Homo sapiens: one gene and its partner. The protein of the gene in region 2 interacts with the protein of the main gene of each other region in a pairwise test. Each region holds a gene or a part of one and is shown on either strand. Other genes may lie near its edges.

Evidence for each region.
Region 1: the proteins of NGRN (region 2) and PRKAG3 interact in a two-hybrid assay, tested with the Homo sapiens proteins (one study listed by BioGRID).

What each region holds. Positions count from the first base shown.
Region 1 is NC_000002.12:218,821,696-218,828,979, forward strand, and holds the end of PRKAG3 (5'-AMP-activated protein kinase subunit gamma-3), read right to left. Parts: intron 6,906-7,284; coding exon 6,824-6,905; intron 6,368-6,823; coding exon 6,309-6,367; intron 6,184-6,308; coding exon 6,138-6,183; intron 5,935-6,137; coding exon 5,880-5,934; intron 5,679-5,879; coding exon 5,552-5,678; intron 5,399-5,551; coding exon 5,233-5,398; intron 2,882-5,232; coding exon 2,844-2,881; intron 2,674-2,843; coding exon 2,527-2,673; intron 2,184-2,526; coding exon 2,067-2,183; 3' UTR 1,951-2,066; intron 1,460-1,950; exon of another isoform or gene 1,395-1,459; intron 1,382-1,394; 3' UTR 613-1,381; downstream 1-612. UniProt on the Homo sapiens protein: AMP/ATP-binding subunit of AMP-activated protein kinase (AMPK), an energy sensor protein kinase that plays a key role in regulating cellular energy metabolism.
Region 2 is NC_000015.10:90,268,602-90,272,929, reverse strand, and holds the end of NGRN (neugrin precursor), read right to left. Parts: intron 1,743-4,328; coding exon 1,142-1,742; 3' UTR 719-1,141; downstream 1-718. UniProt on the Homo sapiens protein: Plays an essential role in mitochondrial ribosome biogenesis.

The DNA of each region.
Region 1 (7,284 bases), on a different chromosome or scaffold from region 2:
TTGAGAAAAGGACCCTGAGAAGGAGGTTGCGGCTAAAGAGGGGGAAAGTATGACAAATACTCCATATAGGTTTGGAGGTGATAAGTGTAGGCAAGCACTGGGTAGAAGAACCCACACGCTTCCTGGGTAGAGCCTGGGAAAACAGCAAGCCACAGAGCGGAACAAGGGACTGGGCTGTCTATCTTAGCAGTTGGCCTGGAACAGAATTACTGAGCTTCCTGAAGCCAGAGGGTGTGCAGGGCCAGGAGCTAGAATCTTCCACATGCTCCAAGCCACAGGTCCCCAAATAGGCTTTGTGGAAGTGAAGGAGCCCCTGGCAGACCTTGCATGACCAACTGATGACCAGATGGGGAGGGGATGTCCAGGCAGGTGCGAGCATGGACGGATGATGATAGCCGAGGAACAGAGTCTTACATGACTTAAAGCCACACCCCCACCCGACCGAGCTTAACCCCAGGAAAAGGTCAGGGGGAGACTTTGAATTGACTGAGATTAATTTCTACCACCTGCTGAAACGGGGTTCCTAATAGAAATTACATTCTGTGTTAGAAAAATAAAGTTATGCTTCTTGCAGATTAGAGTTTGTAGGCTGAGTTGTACCTACTATATAAGTAATGAATTAATTTTTTCTTTATGATTTTGTAAAGAAAAGAGAAGAAAGAAATTTCAGTAGAATAGCGCTACATTGCAAGAGAAACGGCACTTGTGATTTTTATCCATTTTCCTTCTAGTCTTTGAATTTAGAAAGCACAAGTCTCTTGCCACAAGTTCAGGTCAAATGACTGCAGCATTTTGAGTGAAACCAATAAAATCTAAGTTCATGGATTGTTCCTTTTGTTTTGTTTTCTCAATTGCTCATTCTCAGGGGTCCATATACAAGGCCATCCATCCCTGGAGACTAAGAACATGGCTCACTGCGAGAGCTAAGGAGTTTTCTGGACAAGAATGGAGGGAGGACTCCCCACCTCCAACAGGCAGTTCTATAAATAACGGCTGCTCCATGGTGGCCCCTGAAATGCAGCATTTCAGCAGCCTTGAAATGACAAAGCCTGGAGAGTAGGAGGGCAGTGGCGACGTTGCTGGGAACAACAGCTGGGACTCCCAGGAGCTGAAGGCTGAAGCCATAGGTAGCCCAGAAACCGAGGAATCCAGAAGCCCTGACTAAACCCACTGGGGCCATCCGACCCAGTCAGGCGGCAAGGGGATGGGCGGGCATGGAGCACAGATGGCCCTGGGGTAATCCTAGTGCCTCTGGTTCAGGGACCTCCAAGCTTGACTCAGCTGTTCTCCTTAATTTCATCATCCCATGGTGCACTGGGCATGCCCGAGGGCTTCTGGGAGCACAGGTAGGGCAAGGGCAATTTGGGAGGGCTGAAGAAGCCTGTGGGGAAAAGAAAAGGGAAGATGGTGACCACATAGGAGGGACAGCGGCCTTTCCAACAGGGGACCCTTGCCAGCCATGGTGAGTAGATGGAATCTGTGCCCATCCTCTGCAAGCCCCTAGCAAACGTGTGACCAGGAAAGAGTCTGAGATCATGTCACATTTCCTGAGATGAGCACGTAGGTAGAAGCTCCTTCCTTTAAGCTTTAGTTCTTACTGGGGATGGAAATTCCATCCAACAAATGTTGATATAGCTTGCTTCCTTCTAAGGGGATTTCCAGCAGGTGGAAATTGAATTGTGAGGGAACAAGTAAATCTTCCCAGAGTGTCTGAAGTCACATCGCAGCCTTAGCTTTTAGCCGGGGCTTTGTCCCTCCCTTCTAGGACAGTCTCCATGACCTCAGCTGAAAATGGGACAAAGTGGGGACCTGTGAGTCCTTACACTTGCAGTTTTCACAGGGCTGCTCAGCTTTGAGCTTGGCCACTCCCATCCTCAGGGTGTCCCAATCTGAGATCCAGGAAATCAGGAAGACTAAGAGGCTGGTGTCATGGCCCAGGGCAGAGCCTACCTGAATCATAGCTGAACCAGCAAATGGGGGTGGGGGAAGATGAAGGCTGAGTTCTCCAGTTCCCTTCATTGGCTTCCAGGTGTGCAGGTGGCTTGGGATTGAGGACTCAGATCTTCTCAGGCCCCGAGGGCATCGATGCCAGCAGGGCTGAGCACCAGTGCCTGAAGGATGTCGGAGAGGGAGACCACGCCCAAGAGATGCTGGGTCTCGTCCACTAGCACCAGCCTGTGTACCTGTGGGTCCGCAATGTTCAGTGAGGGGGCAGAGCCATGGGGCTACAGCAGCTACTGAGGTTGGTGCCAAGAATCAGGGGAAACAACCCAACATGACTGAGGGAGAGAGCGTCTCCTAGAAACCAGTTAGGGATGGTGTGACCGGCCTAAGGTGATCAGTTGGCAGTGACCCCTGGCATAAGGGCCCCATGGACAGGACCAGGTGCAGGCCAGTGTGGGCACCAGGAGTTGGTCATGAAATGGAAGGATAGGCCAGGTGCCCGATGTTCAGGGATGGCTGGAGCCGTGCATGAGAAGGACTGGGCTATATGTGTTGGGGGCATGAATGGAGGGCACACGGTACCTGCTCCCGAGCAATCCTGTCGATCACTTCCCCCAAGCTCTCGTGGGGCTGGCAGGAAAGGACTCCCTCCAGACATAGTGTCCTCTGCCTCAGGGCTTCTCCCACACTCATGTCCAGGTGGTTGTAGGTTTGCTGGGCAGCCAGGTGCTGGGGCAGAGAGAGAAGTATGGCTCCTAGTCACCCCCTTGCCTGGGCTCCTACCCTACAGATGTCAACCCCTGCATACTTGTCAAGGTCCCCCTGGTCCACAGAGGCCCCCCACCCATCCCCACACCCTTAGCCTCCCTGCAGCATCCCACCTTTCCAGCGACACTTACAATCACATCAAAGCGGGAATAGAGGCCCACGACCTGACCTGCAGAGGGTGGTTGTGGGGGGTGGGGGGAGAAAGACAGGGAAGAGGCTCCGGTCAGAACCGGGGTGCTGTGTAGAGGGCCTAGGGCTATTTGCATCAGGGTGCCACTACCAGAACCCAAGGATCAAACTTAGCATCCCAGAGTGAGACAGCCTGACATTGAGCATCCTGAGGAAATGCAGTGTGAGTAACATGGCACCACCTACAAAATAGTCTAGCCTCGAATTTATTGCCCAAATCTCTTCAAGCCTTTAGATATAATTTCAGTTTACAGGAAACCCAGGAATAGAGAACAAAGTAAAGGCCAGCTCTAGAAAGCAAACAGACAAATCTGGATGTGGGGTATCCTATAGGACAACTGACCCAGGCTTTTCAACTCACCCACGTCATAACAATTTAGGGGGAATGGAGCTGTTATAGATTTAAAGAGATTTAAGGAACAAAAGACACGAATGTAAACCATGGACTTCAATTGGATCCTGTTTTGAACACATCAACTATGAAAAATACATTCCCTTGGGAGGCCGAGGTGGGTGGATCACAAGGTCAGGAGTTCAAAACCAGCCTGGCCAACATAGTGAAACCCCATCTCTACTAAAGATACAAAAAATTAGCCAGGTGTGATGGCACGCACCTGTAAACCCAGCTATTTGGGCGGCTGAGGCAGGAGAATTGCTTGAATCTGGGAGGTGGAGGTTGCAGTGAGCCAAGATTGCACCATTGCATTCTAGCCCAGGCGACAGAGCAAGACTCTGTCTCAAAAAAAAAAAAAAAAAAAATTCTTGGCCGGTCGCGGTGGCTCATGCCTGTAATCCCAACACTTTGGGAGGCCAAGACAGGTGGATCACTTGAGGTCAGGAGTTGGAGACTGGCCTGGCCTATATGGTGAAACCTCATCTCTACTAAAAATACCCCCCAAAAATTAGCTGGGCGTGGTGTCATTTGCCTGTAATCCCAGCTACTCAGGAGGCTGAGGCACAAGAATCACTTGAACTCGGGAGGCAGAGGTTGCAGTGAGCCGAGATGGCACCACTGCACTTTAGCCTGAGTGACAGAGGGAGACTCCATCCCAAAACAACACCCAAAATACCCAACATTCTTGAGGAAATGGAGAAGTGAGAATAAGGATTGGATGTCAGACAATAATATGAATTATTCATGGTTTTGTTTGGTGGTATAAAATGCACTTTTTTTTTTTTTTTTTGGAGTCTCGCTCTGTTGCCAGGCTGGAGTACAGTGGCGCGATCTTGGCTCACTGCAACCTCTGCCTCCCAGGTTCAACCGATTCTCCTACCTCAGCCTCCTAAGTAGCTGGGACTAGAGGTGTGCGCCACCATGCCCAGCTAATTTTTTTTTGTAGTTTTAGTAGAGATGGGGTTTCATCATATTGGCCAGGATAGTCTCGATCTCTTGACCTCGTGATCCGCCCACCTTGGCCTCCCAAAGTGCTGGGATTACAGGCATGAGCCACCGCCCCTGGCCAAAAATACACTTGTTTTAAGAAGTGCAGACTAAAGTGTTTAGGGGTGAAATGACATGATGTCTGTAATTTACTTTGAATTACTTCAGAGAAAAAGATGAACTGGTTATGGCAATATAGTAACAGTAGTTAATCTAGGCAATGGATATAGGTGGTTCATTATGCAATTTCTTTCTACCATTTCTATACATTTGAAGTTTTTTATAATCAAAAATAAATTGAAAACACTTCTTGATATCTATCTTAATTATGGTGATTTTAGCTTTGAAATATTTCATAGCCATCATTCAACCAAAGAAATAATCTTGTCATTTCTGCAGCCCTTTTTCAGTGTAGGAAATTGAGGGCTGGCTGGGGGCCCGAGGTCCCATGGCACATTTAATTTTTTAAATTTTATTATTTCGTTATTATTATTTTAGAGACAGGGTCTTGCTCTGTTGCCCAGGTTGGAGTGTCACTGTATGTAAACTCAAACTCCTGGCCTCAAGCGACCTTCTCGCTCTGGCCTCTCTCAAAGGGCTGGCATTACAGCCATGCACCACGTGTCCGGCTCCATTTTAAGATGAACTGAAACTAAAATCTGCTGCTTCCTCTCGCTATGCCCATTTTCATGCACATAACCTTTTAAATCCTCCTGTGAAGTCAGAAAGATGAGTGTTGTGAAGAATCCCATTTCACAAAGGAGGAAACTGAGGCACAGAGAGGCTAAGCAACTTGCCCAAGTCTCAGAGTAGACGGAGACTTCTAATCCCCAGTCCATCCTGTACCCCCCACAGGGATGGCATGAGAAACCCTGCCCTTCCCATATTCTCCCCACCAGGTTCTCCCAGGCCCCAGCCCAGCCCGAGCCTCTCATCCTGGGGGTGGGTACCACATTCGTTGACCACAGGCAGTGCAGACACACGCCGGTCCACAAAGATGTCCAGTGCAGTCAGGATGGGTGCTGTCTCCAGCACCACAGCCAAGTCTCGGAATGTGCCGATGCCCAAATCTTGGATAGTGCGGTAGAGGAAGGAGGGCCGGGGCAGCAGGGAACCCTGGTTAGGATGGGGACCAGGTGGAGATCAGGGATCCAGCAGCTTCAAGAGGGCTCCCAGCTCTTCCCCACGACTGCTAGGGCTGAAGACTCCTCAGGCCCTCTGATCACCTGCCCAGGTCTCCCCCTTCCTCCCACCTGGGCCCAGGCTTACAAAGATGTGCAGGAACTTGAGCAGGCGTTTGTGTGTGAGGATGTGGAGTACGTTGCCTGACACCGGGTCAAGAACAGGCAGGCGATGGATCCGGTTCTTGATGAGGGTGTAGACAGCTTCAAACAGGCTGCAGAGATGGGAGCAGTGAGCCTCGGGGCAGCCTAGGGAGAGACAACCTCCATCCCAGGCCCCTAAAAAGGAGGGCAGGGCACCAAGGCTCCCTTGTCTGTGTGCCGCCTAGGATGAAGAGGTGAGTTCAGAGCTGAGTGGGACTGGGGAAGGGGACTGTGGGAGGAGGAGGCTCAGGTGAATGAGCAGAGACACCCACCTATCATTAGGAGAGATGGAGACCAGAGGCTTGAAGCAGCCTTGCAGGTAGATCTCTGCAGAAAGAGCCAGAGTCAGGCCAGGGGAGCCGGTCACCTGCCTCACCTTGCAGTCCCAGGCAGCTTCCCTTCCGTCAGGCACCCGAGGCTCCTATTGTCCCTCCCCTGTTCACTCCAGGACATCCCCACTGCCCATCCTCCACCTTAAGCCCTGGCCCACCATCACCAACAGCCCTTTCCGGGTTCCTCTCCCCACTCACCCCTCCAGGTCTCAATCTTATGTTGTTCAATCTCATAGATCTGGACCTAGAGACATCGACAGGACTCCAGAAGTCAGAAAGACGTGGGCTTCTAGGGCACCAGGCTCCAGGAGGACTCCCCTCCGCCCCCGCCCCTCTGGGTGCCCATAAGATTCCCAGCCCACTCCTCACCAGGGGGGACCTGTAGTAGCGATGCAGCACCAGGATGAAGTCAGTGATGGTCAGCATCCCTGCAGGGAGGGGCGGGGAGGAGGTCAGCCCGGGGCCTTTGGGTGGAAGGCAGGTTGAGGGTCAGATCCCCTCCCCACCCTGCCAGTGTCCTTGTGCTGAGACACAGTGGGGACTGTGGGAACAGGACAGTGGGGCAGCCCCCCAGGCCTGAGAAGTGGGGCTCTTTCTCTCCTGCCTCCCCCCATTTGCTCCCTAGCACCTATGGCACAGGGCCATGCAGTAGCGGAGGTGAAAGGTGTCAGCTGGTCATAGCGGCTCCACAGATGGGGAAATTGAGCCCCAGGGTCTCCCAGCTGGCCATGCAGACTCCGGATGGACTTTCCTCCACCCTGGCCCCTGGCTGGGCTTGGCCTGAAGCCAAGCTTGTGGTATATCAGAGATCAGCCCCAGAACAACCGTACAAGATCTCCCCCTCACCTCCTCCATCTCCCTTCACCTCCCCAGCCTCTCCTCACCCACAAAGCTCTGCTTCTTGCTGTCCCATAGAGGGGCTGCCCGCACACCGTTGGCCACCAGAGCAAAGAAGGCCTTCTTGATCTGAGGGGCCAGGGAGAACAGTCAAGGGTGGGTCCCGAGAGACCCTCACCCCCCTCTCTGCCCCTCAGTGCGCACCTCCCATCTGCCTGCTGTCCCCTCCCTGTCCCACCCAGGGTTCTTCCATGGGGCCTTCTCCTGGACCCTCCTCTACACCAGCTGGCCTGTCTTCCTCATGTCACAGTACACGCTAGACATGATCGTTGCTGGGGACATGTACATAGATAAGGCTGTGGCCTGAGACCATGAGCCCCTCACCTGGCACACCAGGGAGTGAGAAATTCTAAGTTCATGTTTCCATTTGGAGGGTATGTGTGTACAGACACAGTCTAGTTTTTGATAGACTAAGTACCGGAGGCATAGTTATTTACATAACACTTGC
Region 2 (4,328 bases):
TAAAACAAGCAGTAAATTAACAAAATTATGGCAGACAGTGCCATATTCCCGGAATTCCAGAAGCCCTGGATTAATGATGAGACCCGAGTTAAGTCCCAGCACTGCCACTTACTGGCAGCCATCTTAAAGTCTATTTCCTTATTTGTAAAAGGGACCTCTTAATCCGGGATTGCCTACACCATGGCACCATTGTAAAAATCTGGTTAAGTAAACTGTATAATGAGACATAATTGAAGATCGATTGATTTTATTTAGAGATGGGGGTCTCACTGTTATCCCAGGCTGGAGTGCAGTGGTGCAATCATAGCTCACTGCAGCCTCAACCTCCGAGGCTCAAGCGATTCTCCCACCTCGGCCTCCCAAGTAACTGGGACTGTAGGCACATTCTGCCATGCCCAGCTCTTAATATAAACTTTAAAATGTGGCTGGAGATTATAAGGGCCCTAAAGCCTTTGCCTGCTTTGTATTTTCTGCCAACCCCTCATTTCCCAATCTCTGCCAGAACCCCAGCAACTAAAAGAAAGGCGTCCAGTTTTCAGTTGTCAGAATCCCTCACTAAGCAGGATGCTCTGCACAGAGCCCTTTGCTGGGAAATTCCTCTGGTTCCATCTCTCTCCCAATGTTTACTGACCAGGGATCCTTCCTTTCTGCCTTTGTCCTTCCCTCTCTCCAAGGTTCACAGGTAAACCATCCCACCCCAAAGAGCACCAAAGAGGCAGACTGCTACATTTTACTTTATTTTGTTGTAAGGAAAACCAATTGACTAAGTTGTCCCCAAAATGTTAGTGTTCACTGATCAAGAAGGAAATGAGGTCAGAAGGCAAACTTTTCACTTCTTCTCAAACATAAATTGCAAGTATCACAGAAAATTGTAACAACACATGCAACACGGGATGGCTTTCAACACACAGAGAGCCTAAGCAAGAAGAGTGAGTACTGAAGGTCTACAGAGGTCAGACTGGGAGCACTACCACAGGAAGTTTGAATCTATCCACGCAGCTCTTTCCTCCCACAGTCCAGGCTCAACACCTCTTCCTATTCCAAGGTGGCTTATCCATATGCAGAAATCCAGGCTGTTCCATATACATTAATACTTGCCCAGCTGTGTTTCACGAGGCATCTCCATAAGCCAAGCCCCGACTCAAATTCTGTACAGGAAGTTCCCGTTGCTGTCAAAGAACTCTCGGCCCCTCTGCACTACTTTGCTGCTGAAGTTATCTGGCTCCTCTGCCTTCAACTCCTCCAGCTTCTGACCACTTGGCAACGCACCACTGCCAGTTCCTCTGGGGCTCTCAGAATCACTGGAGTACTTCTGCAGCTCTCTTGGATGACCTAGGGGTGCAGCAACAGGCACAAAGCTCTCCTCCAGGTCCTGGATTTCTTTATTTCTTCCCTTCCTTCTCCTTGGTGTATTTGTCCTGTGAGTGTCTGACTCTATCACTTTCAAAGCTGTGCTGTGATTTGGGTCTTTAGATGAGGCTTCATGCCCTGGCATAAGCAAAGAGCCTGATACAGAGTGGCCTGCAGGGAGCAGCTTTGAGGTATTTCCAGAGCCCCGGAGGTGCTGCAGCGAGTGGGCAAGCCCAGCTTTCTTAAGGACTTTTTGATCCTGCTTCAGCTTCTGCTCCAATGTGGGTAAAAACTTGCTTTTTAAAACTCTTCGGATCACATCAGTGCTGACATCAAAGCCTTCAGCCAACCTGGGAACTGACCAGGACTCTGGAAATTCCTCATGTAAATACCTACGGGAAGAAGGAGCAGGTTTGCAAGTTGTGAAGAAGTCTCCTATCAGAACATCTAACTCGCAATACCTATGATAAAGAAGAGGGGTTGAGGCCTGGCATGGTGGCTCACACCTGTAATCCCAGAACTCTGAGAGGCCGAGATAGGCGGATCACTTGAGCCCAGGAGTTCGAGACCAGTGATTCTTGTGCCTGAGCCTCCGAAGTAGCTGGGATTACAGGCATGAGCTACCACGTGGCACAAGAATCACTTGAACCTGGGAGGTGAAGGCTGCGGTGAGCCGAGATTGCACCACTGCACCACTGCACTCCAGCCTGGGCAACAGAGTGAGACTCTCCCAAAAAAACAAAAAAAGAGAGCTTGAAAAACCGCAAATGTAGTCCCTATCTTGTGCTAGCTAAATCTTGTGCTAGTCCCTATCTTGTGCTAGTTAAATGGCTGTGTTCCATTTCTGTGTGTCAACAGCAACACCTGACCACTGTCAGTCAGGTCACTTCATTTCACATCAACTCAGCTCCTCTCACTGACATCTAATACCACAATAGATCCTGGGGACGCAGGAGGACTGACCTTCCCATTACATAGTTTGGGAGTGGGGACAGACAAAATAAATGACATTATGGTAAAGGTTATAGCACAGGATGCAAAGACAGCACCCCAGGAGGGAGACCCAGATATAGGGAATAAGAACACTTATAGCCAGGCCCAGGAATTGCTTCATGAAGTCCAAGCTAGAGTTGGTCTGAAAGGATGAAAGGAGTAATAAGCTGGCAGAAGGGAGGAGAGAAGGAGAGATGAAAGATACTGATGATAAAGTGAAGAGCTTGTGAAATGTAAAGCGGCACATCACCTTTGTTGGGAATAACTCAACTGACAGTGAGGGTAAGAAGTAGATCACACTTAGGGGTCTGGAGTTTATCCCAAGGCAACAGCAAGTCAAGGAAAAATTTTAAGCAGTGGAATGCCACAGATAAATTTTCATTTTGAAGTTCAACCTACAGCCTGGCACAATGGCTCACTCCCAGCACTTTGAGAGGCTGAGGCAGGAGGATTGCTTGAGCCCAGGAGTTCGAGACCAGCCTGGGAAACAGGGAGATCCCATCTCTATTAAAAAAAGAAAAAAAGGAATTCAACCTAGTGGTAGTTTTTCAGTGACAAAAGTATAGGCAGAAAGATTGGTCAAGAGGCTTTTACAGTAATCCAGATAGTCTCGAGTGAGACAGTCAATGGAGCATAGGAGGAAAGTGAGTTGAGAAATATTTTAAGAAAGTCAAATAGTACAACTTGGTACTAAGGGACTAAATATTGGGGGAAGCATCATCAAGGCCAAGATGCAGGATTTTAGCTTGGGTAATCAGTAGGTTATAGGAAAAACAGGAACAGAATGAAGTTGTCAGGGAACAACGATGAATTCTATTTTGTACATGCTGAGTTTGAGGAAACTGTGATATCCAAAACAGAGATGTCTGGTACACAGTTGAATATATGCCTTTAGATTTCAGGAAAAAAAACATGAACTGGAGATGACAGATTTGGAAGTCATAAGCCAATAGCAGGGGTGACTGAGTGGCTAGCATCAGGCAGGGAAATATGCAGAGTGAACTAAAATGACAAGGACAGAACTCTATGAAATAACAATATTTAAGATATAGGAGGTAGAAGAGGAGCCCAGGAAGGAAACTGAGAAAAGCAGCCCTAGAAACAAAGAAAAAAAGATCAGAAGGGAATGGTACCCTGGAGTCAAGGGAGAAGAGAATTTTAAGAAAGCAGTTCACCATGGCACATGTACACCTATATAACAAACCTGCACATTCTGCACATGTACCCCAGAACTTAAAGTAAAATTAAAATAATAAAAATAAAAAAAGGCTGGGTATGGTGGCTCACGCCCGCCTGTAATCCCAGCACTTTTGGGAGGCTAAGGCAGGCAGATCACTTGAGGTCAGGAGTTCAAGACCAGCCTGGCCAACACGCTGAACCCAACCTCTACTAAAAATCCAAAAAAAAAAAAAAAAAAAAAAAAATTAGCCAGGTATAGTGGTGTGCACCTGTAATTCCATCTACTTGGAAGGCTGAGGCACGACAATCACTTGAACCCAGGAGGCAGAGGTTGCAGTGAGCCAAGATCATGCCACTGCACTCCAGCCTGGCAGCAGAATGAGACTCCGTCTCAAAAAAAAAAAAAAAAAAAAAAGAGAGAATCAGTGTCAATCAATAAATAAATAATGGGGGGGGGGGGGTGGGAGAAAGCAGTTTCAGCTGGGTGCAGTAGCTCACACCTGTAATCCTAACACTTTGGGAGGCCAAGGCAGGCAGATCGCTTGAGCTCAGAAACTGGAGACCAGGTTGGGCAACATGGCAAAATCCTGTCTTTATTTAAAATATATATATATATTTTAATTTAAAAGGCAGTTTTTACAAGGGCAAATGCTGCTGAATTATTTAGGACGCTAAGGACTACAAAGTGTCTTTTTGAGCCTAGCACTGAGGAAGTCACTGATGGATTTAAGGAGAGCAGTTTTATTGCAGTGATACAAACAAACAAAGGGTAGGCACCCTGGGAACCAGCTGGGAACAAAAGAATG